Linked DNA regions of Homo sapiens: region 2 is linked to region 1. The links come from fine-mapping of genetic effects on gene expression. Tissue or cell type: whole blood. Region 1 holds a variant in brackets; the other region holds the start of a gene. All regions are shown on one strand. Distances are from middle to middle.

The links. PIP is the estimated chance that this variant, and not a neighbour inherited with it, causes the effect.
Region 2: it holds the start of ITGAM, and the variant in region 1 is fine-mapped to the expression of ITGAM in whole blood (TOPMed, PIP above 0.99).

The regions. Positions count from the first base shown.
Region 1 is chr16:31,329,135-31,337,238 of GRCh38, reverse strand. ITGAM (integrin subunit alpha M) reads right to left here. Exons shown (of 30, transcript NM_000632.4): 24 at 7,936-8,011; 25 at 7,334-7,441; 26 at 7,075-7,158; 27 at 6,818-6,931; 28 at 6,634-6,735; 29 at 5,964-6,074; 30 at 4,362-5,603. The coding sequence ends at 5,532. Among named protein-coding and RNA genes, the nearest start is that of ITGAX, 22 kb to the left of the region's middle. RefSeq lists a silencer at 5,682-5,761. The variant C/G (reference allele first, on the strand shown) is at 4,890.
Region 2 is chr16:31,255,192-31,263,295 of GRCh38, reverse strand. ITGAM (integrin subunit alpha M) reads right to left here and starts at 3,321. Exons shown (of 30, transcript NM_000632.4): 1 at 3,204-3,321; 2 at 1,499-1,604. The coding sequence starts at 3,231. RefSeq lists an enhancer at 3,465-3,564.

The DNA.
Region 1 (8,104 bases):
GCAGCTCACACCTGACATCCCAGTGCTTTGAGAGGCCAAGAAGGAAGGATCACCTGAGGCCAGGAATTCAAGACCAGCTTGGGCAACATAGCAAGACCCCGTCTCTACAAAAAAAAATCATAAAACAATCAGCCAGGCATGGTGGCACATGCCTGTAGTTCCACCTACTCGGGAGGCTGATGTGGGAGATCACTTGAGCCCAGGAGCTCAAGGTTGCAGTGAGCTGTGATCACGCCACTGCACTCCAGCTTTGGCAGCAGAGCGAGACACTGTCTGAAAAAAGAAAAAGAAGAATAAGAAGAAGACGACTTCGGCCTTTACCACAATTGGGAGAACAGAATCTTTGGGAAGGTGGTGATATCAATTAACAAAACAGATAAACTGCTGTATCGGAGGCTCTGAGTGATAGTGTTTTCAACAAGACCAGTGTTCTCATCTCTCTCCTGTAATGGCATGAGAATATGGAGTCCAGGGCTGACATGGTGCCTCCGCAGAGGCGGGACCCAGCCTCCTCTGTTCCACTCTTGCATTCTTCGATGTCAAACTCATCTTCAGGGTCCAAAATTGTGCACCGTGATGCTGACACTCCAGCCAGCGGGAAGGTGGTGAAAAGAAACGACACTTCTTCCCTCAAAGGACCTGGCTCCGAAGTTGCTCGCTTCACTGCTGCTCACATCCCATCAGCCAGAACCTCGCCAGGCAGCCACACCAGCTGCACAGGAGGTGGGGAGACGAACCCTATAACTAAGGGGCTATACGCAATATCCATTGCAGCGTAACAAACCACCACGCAGGACTGAGACATCAGTAATTGATTATTTCTCACAGTTGCATGAGGTGACAATCCAGGCAGTTCTGTGGGACTCTCCAGTGGCTGCAGGTGTTGGACAGCTGGATGGAAGGATCACAGCAGCCTCATGCATGCACAGTGGCAGTGGCCTCCGCTGTCTCCTCCATGAGTCCACTCTTTCTCCAGTGGGCCATATGGATCACGGCGTGGTGACCTCAGTGTTCCGAGGGGTGCAGGGCAGGATCTGCTGTGCTCCTAAAGGTCTAGGCTCCAGAACTCACACGACCACACTCCTACTGTATTCTATTAATCAAAGCAAACCACGGGACCAGCCCAGATTCAAAGAGGTAGACAGGCCGCACCATGTGATGTCAGGGACAGCAATGTCACACTGCAAGGGTGTAGGGCCGGGAAGCACCATTCACTGGGAGTCAGAATTGTAACCATCTCCCATGGTGGCCCAAATTAAGATTCTACTCTAAGTAGGAAAAGGAGAGTGGATACTGAAGGGATTCATTTATTCTGAAGTGAGAAATCCCCAAAAATAAAAGCAAGCAGACGTTCCTGGACTTGGCCACTTATCACCAGATTTATGGTCCTGTTTATTAGTCACTTTGTGGTCATGCTAGGGAAATCTGTCGCTTGAAATGATTGACTTTTCTAACCCATCATAAAGCTCCTATCTGGCTGAATTCAACACAAGCTTCTCATTTGAAGACGCGGAGGTGAACTCTGAGTTCACAGGACTTTAACTGCCCTGCAAAGACTGGCGGCTACAGGCACGGAGGCTGCAAGGACAGGCAACTACAGGTATGGAGGCTGCCAGGACAAGCAACTAGGTACGAAGGCTACAAGGACCAGCATGGAGGCTGCAAGGACAGGCGACTACAGACATGGAGGGTGAAAGGACAGGCGACTAAAGGTACAGAACTCTCTCTGTTCCCGGAGCAATTCAGGACTTCTGCAGATATTGAGGACTTTTATCTTTCAACATAAGGAAACACAGAAATTCTTAACAGACTTTATTTAAGTCAGGAGAGGAAATAGCAAAGAACCGTCTAAAGGTGACCGTGTTTTGTGTCACCCCCACAGATACAAAGGGCCATTGTCTCATTAGCCACCTTTTGAGGGCATCTCACTTCACTTTGAGTGAAATTGGAACTACTCACTCTGGCTTACAAAGCACTCATGCCCAAGCCCTGCCCACTCTCCCAGCCTCCCCTGCCCTCCCTTCTGCCTGGAGATCTTCTGGCCCTGCTTCAGTCAGGTGTCACCTCCCTTGGGGACCCTTCCTTCACCTCCCTAAGGAGTAAGCCCTCTCTCCTCCTGCCACATGTGAAACAAGTGTCCCTCTAAGCCATGATTTTCTTGTATTTCAATGAAGATCATGAAATTACCATTTTTTGGCTGGGCACAGTGACTCACACCTGTAATCCCAGCATTTCGGGAGGCCAAGGCAGATGGATCACCTGAGGTCAGGAGTTCAAGACCAGCCTGGCCAACATGGTGGAACCCCATCTCTACCAAAAATACAAAAAAAAAAAATTAGCCAGACATTGTGGTGCACGCCTGTAATCCCAGCTACTCAGGAGGCTGAGGCAAGATAATCACTTGAACCCGGGAGGGAGAGGTTGTAGTGAGCTGAGATCACACTACTGTACTCCAGTCTGGGCGACAGAACAAGACTCCATGAAAAAAAAGAAAGAAAGAAAGAAAGAAAGAAAGAAAGAAAGAAAGAAAGAAAGAAAGAAAGAAAGAAAGAAAGAAAGAAAGAAAGAAGGAAGGAAGGAAGGAAGGAAGGAAGGAAGGAAGGAAGGAAGGAAGGAAAGAAAGAAAGAAAAAAGAAAGGAAGGAAGGAAGGAAGGAAGGAGGAAGGAAGGAAGGAAGGAAGGAGGAAGGAAGGAAGGAAGGAAGGAAGGAAGGAAAGGAAGGAAGGAAGGAAGGGAAAGAAAGAAAGAAGGAGAAAGAAAGAAAGAAGGAGAAAGAAAGAGAGAGAGAAAGAAAAGAGAGAAAGAGAAAGAAAGAAAGAAAAGAAAGAAACATTTTTGTCCAAAAACATGTCATCAATTTCATATGCTTTAACCCAATATCATAACAGTTAAATAACAGCCACCCTCTCCCCACACTCCCTCATGCCTGTTCTGGGGCCATTCCTCTGAGGCTGTCAGGACAGTAAAAGAGAAAAGCTTTAGACCTAGGCAGAGCTGGGATTAACTCCTAGCTCCATTCCTTCCCAGCTGTATGACCTCAGGCAACTGGTATGATCTATCTAAGCCTAGGTTTCCTCATAAGTGAAATTCATGTAAATACCAAGGACTGGTGTGAGGATTAGAGAGGATGTATGTTCAGGCCAGGCTAGTGTTTACTGTGTTTGCAAAGTATGAGGGACAGGCACTGGGCATCCTCCCTCTGAGGAAGCAGCCACCAAAATGTCACCTGCACACACCTTGGCAGCAAGTGCTCCTGGTGCCCTGACCTGAACCAAAGGCACCGTGTCAGGGGCTGTGTTCACCTGTCAAACATCCAGCCAGCAGCACTGGTATCACTTTCTCTGGCCACTAGAGCCCACTCTCCTCACACTCAGGGCAGGCCAGAAGTGGTAGGAAATTAACACACTCTCCCCACCAAGAGCAGCCCTCATCCAATAGCTAAGTGGAATCGGTGTCTATGCGCTCCAGCCTTCTCCCCTGGGTGGGGTGATACTGAGGTGCGTGTTCTGCACTGCCTCCGAGAACTGCCCAGTGGGGTGAAGCTCCAGGAACTCACAGCAGCTTCTCTGTGGGTGATACACCTGTTATTGGCAGCCTTCCCTTCCTCGGTATTTCCTGGAGCCATCTCTTTATTTTATTTTATTTTATTTATTTTTTTTTTTTTAAGATGGAGTCCTGCTCTGTCGCCCAGGCTGGAGTGCAGTGATGCAATCATATCTCACTGCAACCTCTACCTCCCAGGTTAAAGCAATTCTCCTTCCTCAGCCTCCCAAGTAGCTGAGATTACAGTTGCCTGCCACCATGCATGGCTAATTTTTTTGTATTTTTAGTAGAGACGGGGTTTCACCAAGTTCGACAGGCTGGTCTCAAACTCCTGAGATCAGGTGATCCACCAGCCTCGGCCTCCCAAAGTTCTGGGATTACAGAGGCGTGAGCCACTGTGCCCGACCTTTATTTTATTATTTTGTTTATTTTTGAGACAGGATCTCACTCTGTCACCCAGGCTGGAGTGCAGTGGTGCGATCATGGCTCACTGCAGTCTAGACCTTCTGGGCTCAAGTAATCCTCCTGCATCAGCCTCCGGAGTAGCTGTGACTACAGGCATGTAACACCAGGCCTGGCTAAATTTTTTTAATTTTTCGTGGACACAGGTTCTCACTATGTTGCCCAGGCTAGTCTCGAACTCCTGAGCTCAAGCAATCTTCACACCTTCACCTCCCAAAATGCTGGGATTTCAGGTGTGAGCCACCATGCCTGGCCTGCCACCTCTTAAATACGCTTGTTTCACCCAAATTCTTGGGTTTGCTTCTGGGAGAACCCAAACTTCCAGGAACATATCCTATAAATTATCCTTACATATATGCAAAAATGACATATATTTGATTTATTAACTCAGCATTGATGCAATAACAAGAGAATGAAAATAGTATATCAAAAGAAGACTGGTTAAATACATTATGGTACACTCACACAATGGAATACTATGCAGCGGTATAAAAGAATGAAAAAGTAATTTATGTCTTAATATGAACCGATGTCTGAGAAATATTGGTGAAAAAAAGCAAGATACAGACCAATATAAAGTATGCTACCATTTGTGTAAAAAAGCTTGTGTGTGTGTATGTGTGGTGTGTGTGCACACGTGCATACACTTGCACATCGCCTGGAATCTGTCTGAAGGAAACCTCAAAACACAATCTTGACTACCTTTAAGGAGGTGACTTGAATATCTGGAAAGGGAGACTTTTCACTGTACACTTGAATGCCTTGTGATTTTTGTACCATAGACAAGCTTATCCATCCAAAAAATTAAAGTCACATTGAAATAATAAATGAATCCAGAAAGGAAGCTTCATCATTCCTCAGTGGGCATCTTTATTGGGCATCAG[C/G]GCTGGTGTGGAGGAGGTTCCTGGTTCCACCCACGGCTTCTCATGGAGTCTCCATCCAAGCTGCGCAGGCTCCAGCAGGCCGCAGGCTCGCAGGCGACGGGAAGTCCCACTTCTTTCAGTGGAGAGAAGCTGCTGTGTTTCCCTCTGTCTTCACCCACAGGATTGACCGTCCCCTCTCCCGGAGGAAAACCCAGCAGCGGCTTCACCCACGCACAAGGGAGCCCAGGCAGTTCCCTTCTGCCGGAGAGGCTACGCTGCCGTCACCTACCCACACGCCAGAGACATCTGAGTCACACACGTGAGCCACACGCCCCTGAGCACACACATGCACACACTCGCACACATGCACACACTTGCACACACATGGACACACGCACACACACTTGGACACACTCACATACTTGCACACACTCACACATGGGCGTGCAAGTGCACATGCACGCACACGCACACATGTGCACACACTTGCACACAGACACTTGCACACACGCACATACACACTTGCACACACACAAATGGAAGCCCAAGCCCGTCCTGTCGGGGATACTTCGCTGTCCGACGTGTCCAGCAGCCTGGGGGCTACGTGTGGTCTGGGCAGAGTCCTGCTGGCCACCGAGAGGCAGCTCTGTCGGGAAGGAGCCGCTACTGGGGTTCGGCCCCCGGGGGACCCCCTTCACTCATCATGTCCTTGTATTGCCGCTTGAAGAAGCCGAGCTGCGGGGCAGAGGAGGGCAGTGAGAGCGACAGCAGCCAGGGAGCGTGCGGCTCCGCAGACCAGGGGGAGGGGGCGGGAGGGCCGGCAGAGACAGAAGGGACCCAGGAGGGCGGGGCGGGAGGGGAGTGACATCCGCGTCGGGGCCTGGAGAAAAACAGAAACTACAAGGAGGGCGACTCGTTCTCAGCGCGCCCCGCGCATGAACCCGGCCACCCTCCCTAAGAGACTGAGGCGCAGAGAGGCTCCCAGACTCGCCCCAGTCACACAGCTGGCAGCCCCGCCGGGGAAACCGAGGCACGGAGCTGCAGCGCGAGGCCCGAGAGGATGAAGGGAGGGGGTGGGGGAGCAGCGGGGAGCACCTTGTACAGCGCGGCGGTGATGAGGGCCAGGAGCAGCAGTCCCCCGACAGAGCTGCCCACGATGAGCGGCAGGGGGTTGGGGACCTCGAACGGCTCCACTTTGGTCTCCGTCTGGGGGAGGAAGGAGGGGCGTCAGGGGAGACGACTCTGGATTTCTGGGGGTTCCCCATTCACACCGTGTGCACCCCTGAATCAAGTGGGGAACCCCTCCTCATGTCCCCCAGAACCCCAGCCCTCAGTCCTCCTCCCCCACCTCTTCTCCCTCCTCTCCCTCCTCCGTTTCTCTGTCCTCTATCTCTCTCTATCGCTTTCTGCCTCTCTCTGTCTCTCTATCTCCATGGCTCACTGTCTCTGTCTCTGTCGCGCTCTGTATCTCTCTCTTTATCTCTATCTCTCTGTCTATCTCCATCTCTCACTGTCTCTGTCTCTATCTCTATCTCTCTGACTCTCTATCTCTCTCTCCTTTGTCTGTCTCTGTGTCTGTTTCTCCCTCTGCCTCTATCTCTCTGTCTCTGTCTGTCTCTCTCCTTACGTCTCTGTATCTCTCTGTCTCTCTGTCGCTCTGTCTCTCTCTCTCCCTCTCTCTTTGTGTCTCTCTCTCCTCCCCCAGAAATCTCCACAAGCGCAGCCCCTCTCCCTCCAATAGTTCCTCAGCGCCCAAGACAGGTACCTGGGACCTCACAAACGCCCCCTGTCCCGGCAGCAGGGTGAACACGGAATCGTTAAACAAGATCTCAGCTGTGCTCACGATCAGGAGGTGGTTATGCGAGGTCTGTGGAAGAGAGCGGGTGGGCACTGCACCTGGGCCCTGAGCACCACGCCTGTGCCCGGCGAAGCCTCAGGACCCCACACACCTTGATGTACCAGTCAAACGAGAGGTTGCCTTTGAGGGTAGCATTGAATTCTTCCTGGATGCCAAAGAACGGGATGTCACACTGGATTCTCTGGCAGACAGCGATGGAGCAGTTCTGGGGAACGCAGGAGGGGAGGGGACGGGTAAGGAAGCCGAAGGCAGAGAACACCCCTCCCCGTTTGCTCAGAGACCATACAGGTTCCAGCAGGGAAGCGCTCTGGGTCTCTGTGTGGCCCTGGGGCTGACTTAGCTTCTCACCACCACGGGGGCCTTCCGAAGCTCAGCCAGAAAGTCGGAGTGAGAGGGCAAGCGCTCCTTGGTGTGGCACGTACTCGAGAGGTTCTGAGGAAAGAGACGCACTGAGAAGGGGCAGAGATGAAGGCGCCAGGGCCTCATCTCGGGAGGTGAGATGGCCTGGGTCCAGGAGAGGGGCGGAGCGGCTCTAAAACCCAATAGCATTAACAGAGGTGAGAGGAACGCGCAGGGCCGTGCAGGAGTCAGGCCGAGCTCCGCTCACCTCGGAGAAGGTGACCTGGGGGCGGTCCCATATGACAGTCTGGTTCAGCCGGACGGGCACCAAGAACACCAGGCTGATGGGGAGGCTCCTCTGCCCCAGGTTGCTGACCTGCACCGGGGAGGGCGGGGTCAGGGCTCTGGCCTTCCTCCCCCACCAGCCTGGAGAATCAGCCTCCCCTCCCCACGGGGCAGGCCATAGGCCCGGGCGTCCTGCCCCTTCCTGTTTGAGAGAGTAGAGTGTACATGTAATACGCATTCCAGTGCCACACGGCCTGGTCTCCAGTCCTAGCTCTCCCACTTACTCGGTGGGAGACCTCGAGCTTGTTCTGTAAACCTCTCTGAGCCTCAGTTTCTTCATCTGTAAACTGGGGATCATGACAGTGCCCCACAGAGTCGCTACGAAGGTAATACAAGATAACTACGTGCGTGCATGTCACATACATACGTGCGTGTATGTGTGCATACTGAGTGATAGCAGCGTGGAACCAAGCCTGGCACACCACAGGTGCCTTGCGCACATTTCCCATCCCTGTTTCTGCATTTTCTACCATCGATTTTCCTCCCCAGCCTCCTTCTCAGGACCCAGACGTCCCAGCTGCCCACCTGATATTGATGCTGCATGACCCGACTGGTATTCTCTGAGGCCGTGAAGTTGAGATATTTAGTGGAGACCCCATGGCTGAAGGGAGAAAAAAGGGACAGGAGGTGACAAAACATGAGGGGTGCCCTGGGAGGGTGTCTCAGGCTAAGTGTGTAAGGAGCGAACAGGCAC
Region 2 (8,104 bases), 74 kb after region 1:
AACAATCTAAATGTTCATTAACAAGAGATCTAATGTAATGTAAAAGGAGATTACAAGCCAGGCACGGTGGCTCAAGCCTGTAATCCCAGCACTTTGGGAGGCCGAGGCAGGTGGATCACCTGAGCTCAGGAGTTCAAGACCAACCTGGCCAACATGGTGAAACCCTGTCTCTACAAAAATACAAAAATTAGCCAGGCGTGGTGGCAGGCACCTGCAATCCAAGCTACTCAGGAGGCTGAGGCAGGAGAATCGATTGAACCCAGGAGGCAGAAGTCGCAGTGAGCCAAGATCATGCCACTGCACTCCAGCCTGGGCGACAGAGGGAGTCTCTAAAAAAATAAAATAAAATAAATTATAGCATCTCCCAATTATGGCATGCAATGCAAGCATAACATGGGATTAATGGACTCAAATCACTGGGCTGTATTATGGGAGATAAAGCAAAGAGCAGAGACCAGCCCCCTTCTTCTGGAAAGGTACTATCACCTCCACAATTACTGTTTCTGTAAAGGTAAATGTTTTAGGCTTCAGGGTCCATACAATCTCTATCACAGCTCCTGAATTCTGCCATTACAGCTCAAAAGTGGCCATAGCCAGGCACAGTGGTTTACACCTATCATCCCAGCAAGTTGGGAGGCCCAAGCAAGAGGATGACTTGAGGCCAGGAGTTTGAGACCAGATTGGGCAACAGAGTGAGACCTCGTCTATACAAAAAAAATCAAAAAATTAGCCAGGTGTGGTGGCACATGCCTGTAGTCCCAGCTACTCAGGAGGCTAAGGTGGGAGGATTGCTTGAGCCCAGGAGTTTGAGTCTACAGTGAGCTATGATTTCACCTGTGCACTCCAGGCTGAATGACAGAACAAGACCATGTCAGAAAGGAAAGAAAGAAATGAAGGAAGGAAGGAAGGAAGGAAGGAAGGAAGGAAGGAAGGAAGGAAGGAAGGAAGGAAGGAAGGATGGAAGGGAGGGAAGGGAGGGAAGGAGGGAAAGAGGGAAGCAGGGAATGAGAGAGGGAGGAAGGAAGGAAGGAAAGAAGGAAGGAAGGAAGGAAGGGAGGAAGGGAGGGAAGGGCAATAAACAGTAAGAGACAAGTGGACGGAGTTGTTTTCAATAAAATTCATTCACAAAAATAGGCGGCAGCCTGCAGGCAGGCCTTAATTTCAGTACAATGTATACTACACATGGTGTGTTGGCTGAGGGAGGGAACGTGTATGTGTTATGCACACACAGAGTCTCCCCGAAGGAACACCCAGGAAACCATTTGTGAGGTCCCTCCTGGGAAGGGAACTAGGGGAAGGGAGTAAGGAAGAGATTTTTACTCTTACACCCTTTTGCATCTTTTGAATTTAGAATACTGTAAATTCAAAAGATGAATTTGTTGTATATTTTGAATTGATTTATCTGTTGAAAAAGATCACTCAAATCGCTGATTTTTTTCAGGTATGTAAGTCTTGGAGAGAAAGCACTGAGAAAGGGGGCTCCATCTAAGGGTCTCACCTGGATCCCTGAAGCTGGACCACGCTCTGCCCGAAGCCCCTTGCGTTCTCTTGGAAGGTCATTGCGTTTTCAGTGTCCAAGTTGAACCCATGACATAAGGTCAAGGCTAAAGGGAGAATGGGGGAAGGATCAAGCAGAGGAAAGTAGCATGCCAGTTAGGGGCTGTAGTCCTAGCACTTTGGAGGGCTGAGGCAGGAGGATCACTTGAGCCCTGATTGTGCCACTGCACTCCAGCCTGAGCAACAGAGAGAGATCCTATCTCAAAATTAAATACAAAAAAAAAACAAAAACTAATAATAATTTAAAAGAAAGCAATGGCTGGGTGTGGTGGCTCAGGCCTGTTATCCCAATAATTTAAGAGGCTGACGTGGGAGGATCACCTGGGCTCAGGAGTTTAAGACCAGCCTAGGCAACACAGTGAGACCCCATCTCTACAAAAAATAAAAAATTAGCCGGGTGTAGTGGTACTCAGGAGGCTGAGGTGGGAGGATTGCTTGAACCCAGGAGGTCAAGGCTGCAGTGAACCATGATCATGCCACTGCACTACAGCCTGGGCAACAGAGAAAGACCCTGTATCAAAAAAAAAAAAAAAAAAAAAAGATAGCAGCATGTCTTCCTGCTCCATTCCCTTTCCCATCCATTCGGTCACCCTAACTAACCCAGCATCCAGATGTCTGCCTCCCAGGTCCAGCTCTGTTAGCCTGGGGCGGGGATTAGCACACTTATTCTGTAAACAGCCAGATAGTAAATTTTAGGTTTTGCAGACCAAGAGGCTGATAGAATATGTTGTACAAGTACTTATATAACAAGACAGAAAATACTTTTCCACAAATTTGTCATTAGGGAAATTTCAAACATAATGATTGAGTACAATTTGTTTGTAATACGGGTTTACAAATGAGACAAATAGAATTCTTTGGGGGTGGTGCTCCCTATCATCAAATCGATTATCAGTGTTCATCTTCAATCTCTAGCTGGCAGGTTGTGCAAAAACAGGTCGTGGGCCATATCGGGCCCCCAGGCCACTGTTTGCTGACTCCTGACCTAAGAACCACCGTCGTGGGGCACGTCCAGTCCTGCTCTGAATTCCAGCCTCCCTTCTGAGCACCTAAATGGCTTCTTCCCCCGGTGTCACAACGATGATTTGCCCAACAGTGAAGTTTCTATACATTCTTAATTAGATAATTTCCTTCCTATGCAGCTCTCAAGTATTTCCTTCCCTTTTGAGGAGAATTTCATTTTCCACAACATATAAGCATAAAAGGTAACAAACTCAAATCATTTTCATTCATCAGTCATTCAACAAACATTTGCACCCGGGACCTTGGAAAATAGAACCGGAGGCAAAGTGGAGATGGTGAGAGGGGATCCAGGAGGAAGCACTCAGGAAAGGGGTCTCACACCTGCTGCGCACCCTGAGCCATGTCACTTCTCCTCCCTGGGCCTCCGTCTCCTCATGTGTGAAGCAAGGGGACCGGCAAGCAGCCTTGCACAGTCCATGAATGTGGTCATTCATCCAGGCTTCCCTGGCCAGCCTGTCTGGGTCTAGCTGTTCTCCCTGCTTCTTCTTGAACCCTTTCTCCTTCCCCAAATCCCCTTTGCCTCTCCCCAGACTGACTCCTACATATTCTGGGCCCTCTATTTATGACAGACCCAAAAGTTACCCTCCTCCCCACCCAGAGTCCCCCACCCCACCCCCATGCACCTGTTAACAGAAGGACTCTGAGAGCCATGGCTGGAAGGAGCCAGAACCTGGAAGGAGGTGAACCAGGGGTTGCAGGCACCACTGAGGAACCACAAGGAAGCCACCAAAGCAAAGAAGGGCAGAAAAGGAGAAGTAGGAGGCAGAAGTCTATCAGAGATTCAAAGGAAGAGGGCGGAGGCTCAGTGAGCACATAGCCCTGCCTGGTCTTCCGCCCAGGACTGCCCACAGCCTGCCCACCCTTCCTCCCCAGCTTCCTGACCCAAACTTTCAAAGTCAATACCACTATCCAAAAGGTGCCATTTGTCACCCACTTGTTTCTTGGGTTGGCCCAAGCATATGAACAAGCTGAACAGACTTAGCCTGCCTCCTGGAATTCGTGTTCTAAACATTAATACGGGCCAGGCGCAGTGGCTCACGCCTGTAATGCCAGCACTTTGGGAGGCCAAGGCAGGAGGATTGCTTGAGCCTGGGAGTTTGAAACCAGCCTGGGCAACATAGAGAGACCCTGTCTCTACAAAAAAATATTTTTAATTAGCTGGGCATGGTGGTGCGCGCCTGTAGCCCCTGCTACTGGACAGGCTGAGGTGTGAGAATTACTTGAGCCCGAGGTCCAGGCTGCAGTGAGCTAGGATCACACCACTGCACTCCAGCCTGGGCAACATAGGGAGACCCCGACTCTACAAAAAAATACATTTAAAAAATTAGCCAGGCATGGTGGCACATGCCTGTAGTCCTAGCTACTCCAGAGGCTGAGGCAGGAGGATTGTTTGAGCTCAGGAGTCTGAGACTGCAATGAGCCTCAATAATGCCACTGCACTCCAGCCCAGGTGACAGAGTGAGACTCTGTCTCAAAAAAAAAATTAAATAAATAAATAAGCAAACATTAATACAGATCAAACAAGTGTAGGAGGTAAAACTCTGTGTCTTCCTGAAAACACACTTTGCAAAATGTCCCTCCTTCAGCCCATGGAAATGGAAGCGCCCTTCAGCCAGAGCTGTCCTCATTTGTAGCCATCAACAAAGACAACTCAAGTACAGGCATACCTGGTGCTTTTTAAATATTATTTTGTGCTTTTTTTAGAGACAGAGTCTAGCTCTGTTGCCCAGGCTGGAGTGCAGTGGTGTAATCACAGCTCACTGCAGCTTCAATCAACCTCCTGGGCTCAAGCGATCCTCCTACCTCAGCCTTCCGAGTAGCTGGTACTACAGGCACATGCTGCCATGGCCAGCTAATTTTTTTTAAATTTTTTGTAGAGACAAGATCTTGCTATGTTGTTCAGGCTATTCTCAACCTCCTGGACTCAAGTGATCCTCCTTCCTCAGCCTCCCAAACTGCTGAGATTACAGGTGTGAGCCACTGCATCCAGCCTATTTTTGTGTGTGTGTGTGTGTGTGTGTGTAAAGGCCTCAAGCTCTTCACCCAAGAATTTTCACTTCTAGTAATTTATCCTAAGAATAGTTAAGAAGTGTAGTCAAAAATATATGTACAAACTTGGCTGGGTGCGGTGGCTCATGCCTGTAATCCTAGCATTTTGGGAGGCTGAGGCGGGGTGGCTCACTTGAGGTCAGCAATTGAAACCAGCCTGCCCAACATGGTGAAACCTCATCTTTACTAAAAAGACAAAAAAATTAGCCAGGCGTGGTGGCAGGCACCTGTAATCCCACCTGGGAGGCTGAGGCAGCAGAATCACTTGAACCCTGGAGGCGGAGGTTGCAGTGAGCAGAGATTGTGCCACTGCACTCCAGCCTAGGCGACAGAGCAAGACTCTTATCTCTAAAAAAAAAAAAATATATATATATATATATATTTGCAAGCTTGTTCATTGCAGCATTATTGTTAATATGAAAAGCTAAAAAAACCTGAATATTCAACAGAGGAATGGTTCAATGATACTTCACTCTGTGATATATCCTTACCCTCCCCTGTGTCTGTCACTTTTAATTCTGTTTTCAAAGGCACAGGAAAATAGGTATCCTTCCACACATACATGGAACACAAACCTCACCTTTATGTGACCGCCAATGTGATTCTCAAGCCAATGATTTTTTTCACTCTTTCTCAACACATTTTCTTTTTTTTTTTTTTTTTTTTTTTGTGAAACGGAGTCTCCCTCTGTCGCCCAGGCTGGAGTGCAGTGGCGTGATCTCAGCTCACTGCAACCTCTGCCTCCCGAGTTCAAGTGATTCTCCTGCCTCAGCCTCCCGAGTAGCTGAGAATACAGGTGCTTGCCACCACGCCTGGCTAATTTTTTGTATTTTCAGTAGAGACAGGGTTTCACCATTCAACACATTTTCTTTTGCCTCTAGTTCTACTTTCCCGATAACTAGATGGAAAAAAATGCTTGCTGGCTGAAAAAAAAAAAAGCAATTAAAATTATGTACATTTGGTTAAAAATTATCTGTTTATAATTTTTATATATAGCCAGGTGTGGTGACTCCTGCTTGTAATCTCAGCACATTGGGAGGCCAAGGCAGAGGGATCATTTGAGCTCAGGAACTCAAGACCAGCCTGGGCAACACAGCAAGACCCTGACTCTACAAAAAAATGTTTAAAAATTAGCTGGGCATAGTGATGCACACCTGTGGTCCCAGCTACTCAACAGGCTGAGGTGGGAGGATCGCTTGAGCCAAGGAGGTTGAGGCTGCAGTGAGATATGATTGCACCACTGCACTCCAGCCTGGAAAACAGAGCCAGACCCTGTCTCTAAAATATATATAGGCAGGGCATGTAATATATACAGGCACGCCTGTAATCCCAGCACTTCGGGAGGCTGAGGTGGGAGGATCACCTGAGATTAGGAGTTCAAGACCAGCCTGGCCAACATGGTGAAACCCCATCTCTACTAAAAATACAACAATTAGCCAGGCGTGGTGGCAGGCACCTGTAATCCTAGTTACTTGGGAGGCTGAGGCAGGAGAATCACTTGAACCTGGGAGGTGGAGGTTGCAGTGAGCTGAGATTGCACCATTGCACTCCAGCCTGGGCAATAGAGCTTGACTCAGTTTCAAAAAATAAAAAATTAAAATTAAATAAATAAGTACATACATACAAAAATAAATCATATATATATATATATATATATATATATATATATATATATATATATGCAGGAAAACCAAATGTTAATAGTCGTTATCTCCAAGATAGGAGGATTACAGGTATGTTCCAGTATCTATTGCTGCAGAGCGAGCTACTCCAAAACTTCATAGTTAAAAACAGCAGCATATTATAATCTCTCGCGTATCTGTGAATCTCCTGGCCTCAGCAGTTCTCAGCGGGGTCTCTCACATGATTGCAGTCGGATCACAACCAGGGCTAGAGTAATCCAAAGCTCAGTTGGGCTGGGCTCCCAAAATGGGTCACTCCCACAGCTGGCAGTTGGCCGTGGGCTAGGAGCTCAGTTGGGGCTGTCACCTGGGCACCCCCACGTGCCCTCTCCATGTGGCTTGGGCTTCTCGCAGCATGGTGGCTGGACTTCAAGAGCAAGTGTTCCAACAGACAGGAAGCAGAAATTTCCAGGCTACTAAGGTCTTGATCTGGAAACTGGCGCCAAGTCATCTGCACCACATTCCATTGATCAGGCAGTCACAGAGCTCATCCACATTCAAGCAAAGGGGACACAGATCCCACCTCCCAATGGGAGGAATTTGTGGTTGTATTCAATCTGCTACAAGATGACTTTAATATTCTTTTCTATATCATTTGTACTTAAAATATTTATATAGGCTGGGTGCAGTGGCTCATGCCTGTGATCCCAATGCTGTGGGAGGCCAAGGCAAGAGGATCACTTGAGCCCAGGAGTTTGAGGCTACAGTGAGCTATGACCTCAACACTGCACTCCAGCCTGGGCAACAGAGCAAGACCATGTCTCAAAGAGAAAAAAAAAAAAGACCTTTATACAAAAAAAAGACTCATAATCATAAAAAATACCAATAGATAATTTAAAACAACAGGTTACCTGTATTTGTTAGCAGGTAAAGAAGCTGAGGAAAGGACGAACGAAGTCATGAGCCCAAGATGAGAAGATACCAACCAGGGTGCCCGGGGAGGAGTTTAGTAGATCAGCTGGGTTTGCTTTGGGAAAAGTTTTCACACTCTGGCCACTATGGGGGCTGCTCGAACTCAGACGTGGAGGCCCCTCCTTGCCCTGAACAGTGGCCAAGGGTCCACTCTCTGTAAAAACATAGGCAAGATCTCAGACTGGCTGTCCAACCTGCAGAGGCTTTCTCAATGAGCCACCACCAAGTGTGCACCTGACCTGGTGACCGTGGGTGGGGACATATCTATAAGCTGTTGGCTGTTCCCTCCTACCTGTCCCCCATCCCCACTCTTGATAAAATCTTAGCTTGATTTCCCCTATAAGTGGACTCTGAGACAAGGCTTCAAGTGTAAGTAATTTATCTGGAAGGTGATTCCGGAAACACTGGTGGGAAAGTGAGGAAAAGAAGGAGCTAATGCCAGGCACAATGGCTCACTGCCTGTAATACCAGCACTTTGGGAGTCCAGAGTGGGAGGATCGCTTGAGCCCAGGAGTTCAAGACCAACCTGGGCAACATAGGAAGATTCTGTCTCTTAAAAAAAATTTTTTTTTAATTATCTAGTGTGGTGGTATGCACATGTAGTCCCAGCTACTCAGGAAGCTGAGGCAGGAGGATCACTTGCACCCAAGGGGTCGAGGTTGCAGTGAGCTATGATCATGCCACCATACACTGTACTCTAGCCTGGGCAACATAATAAGACCCCGTCTCTTAAATTTTTTTAATTAAATAAATAATTAATTAATTAAACATTAATATGTATCAAACAGGTGTGGGAAATCAAACTATCTCCCTGAAAACGCACTTCGCAAAATGTCCCTTGGACATTTTGAGCCCAAGTGTTGGAGGCTGCAGTGAGCCAT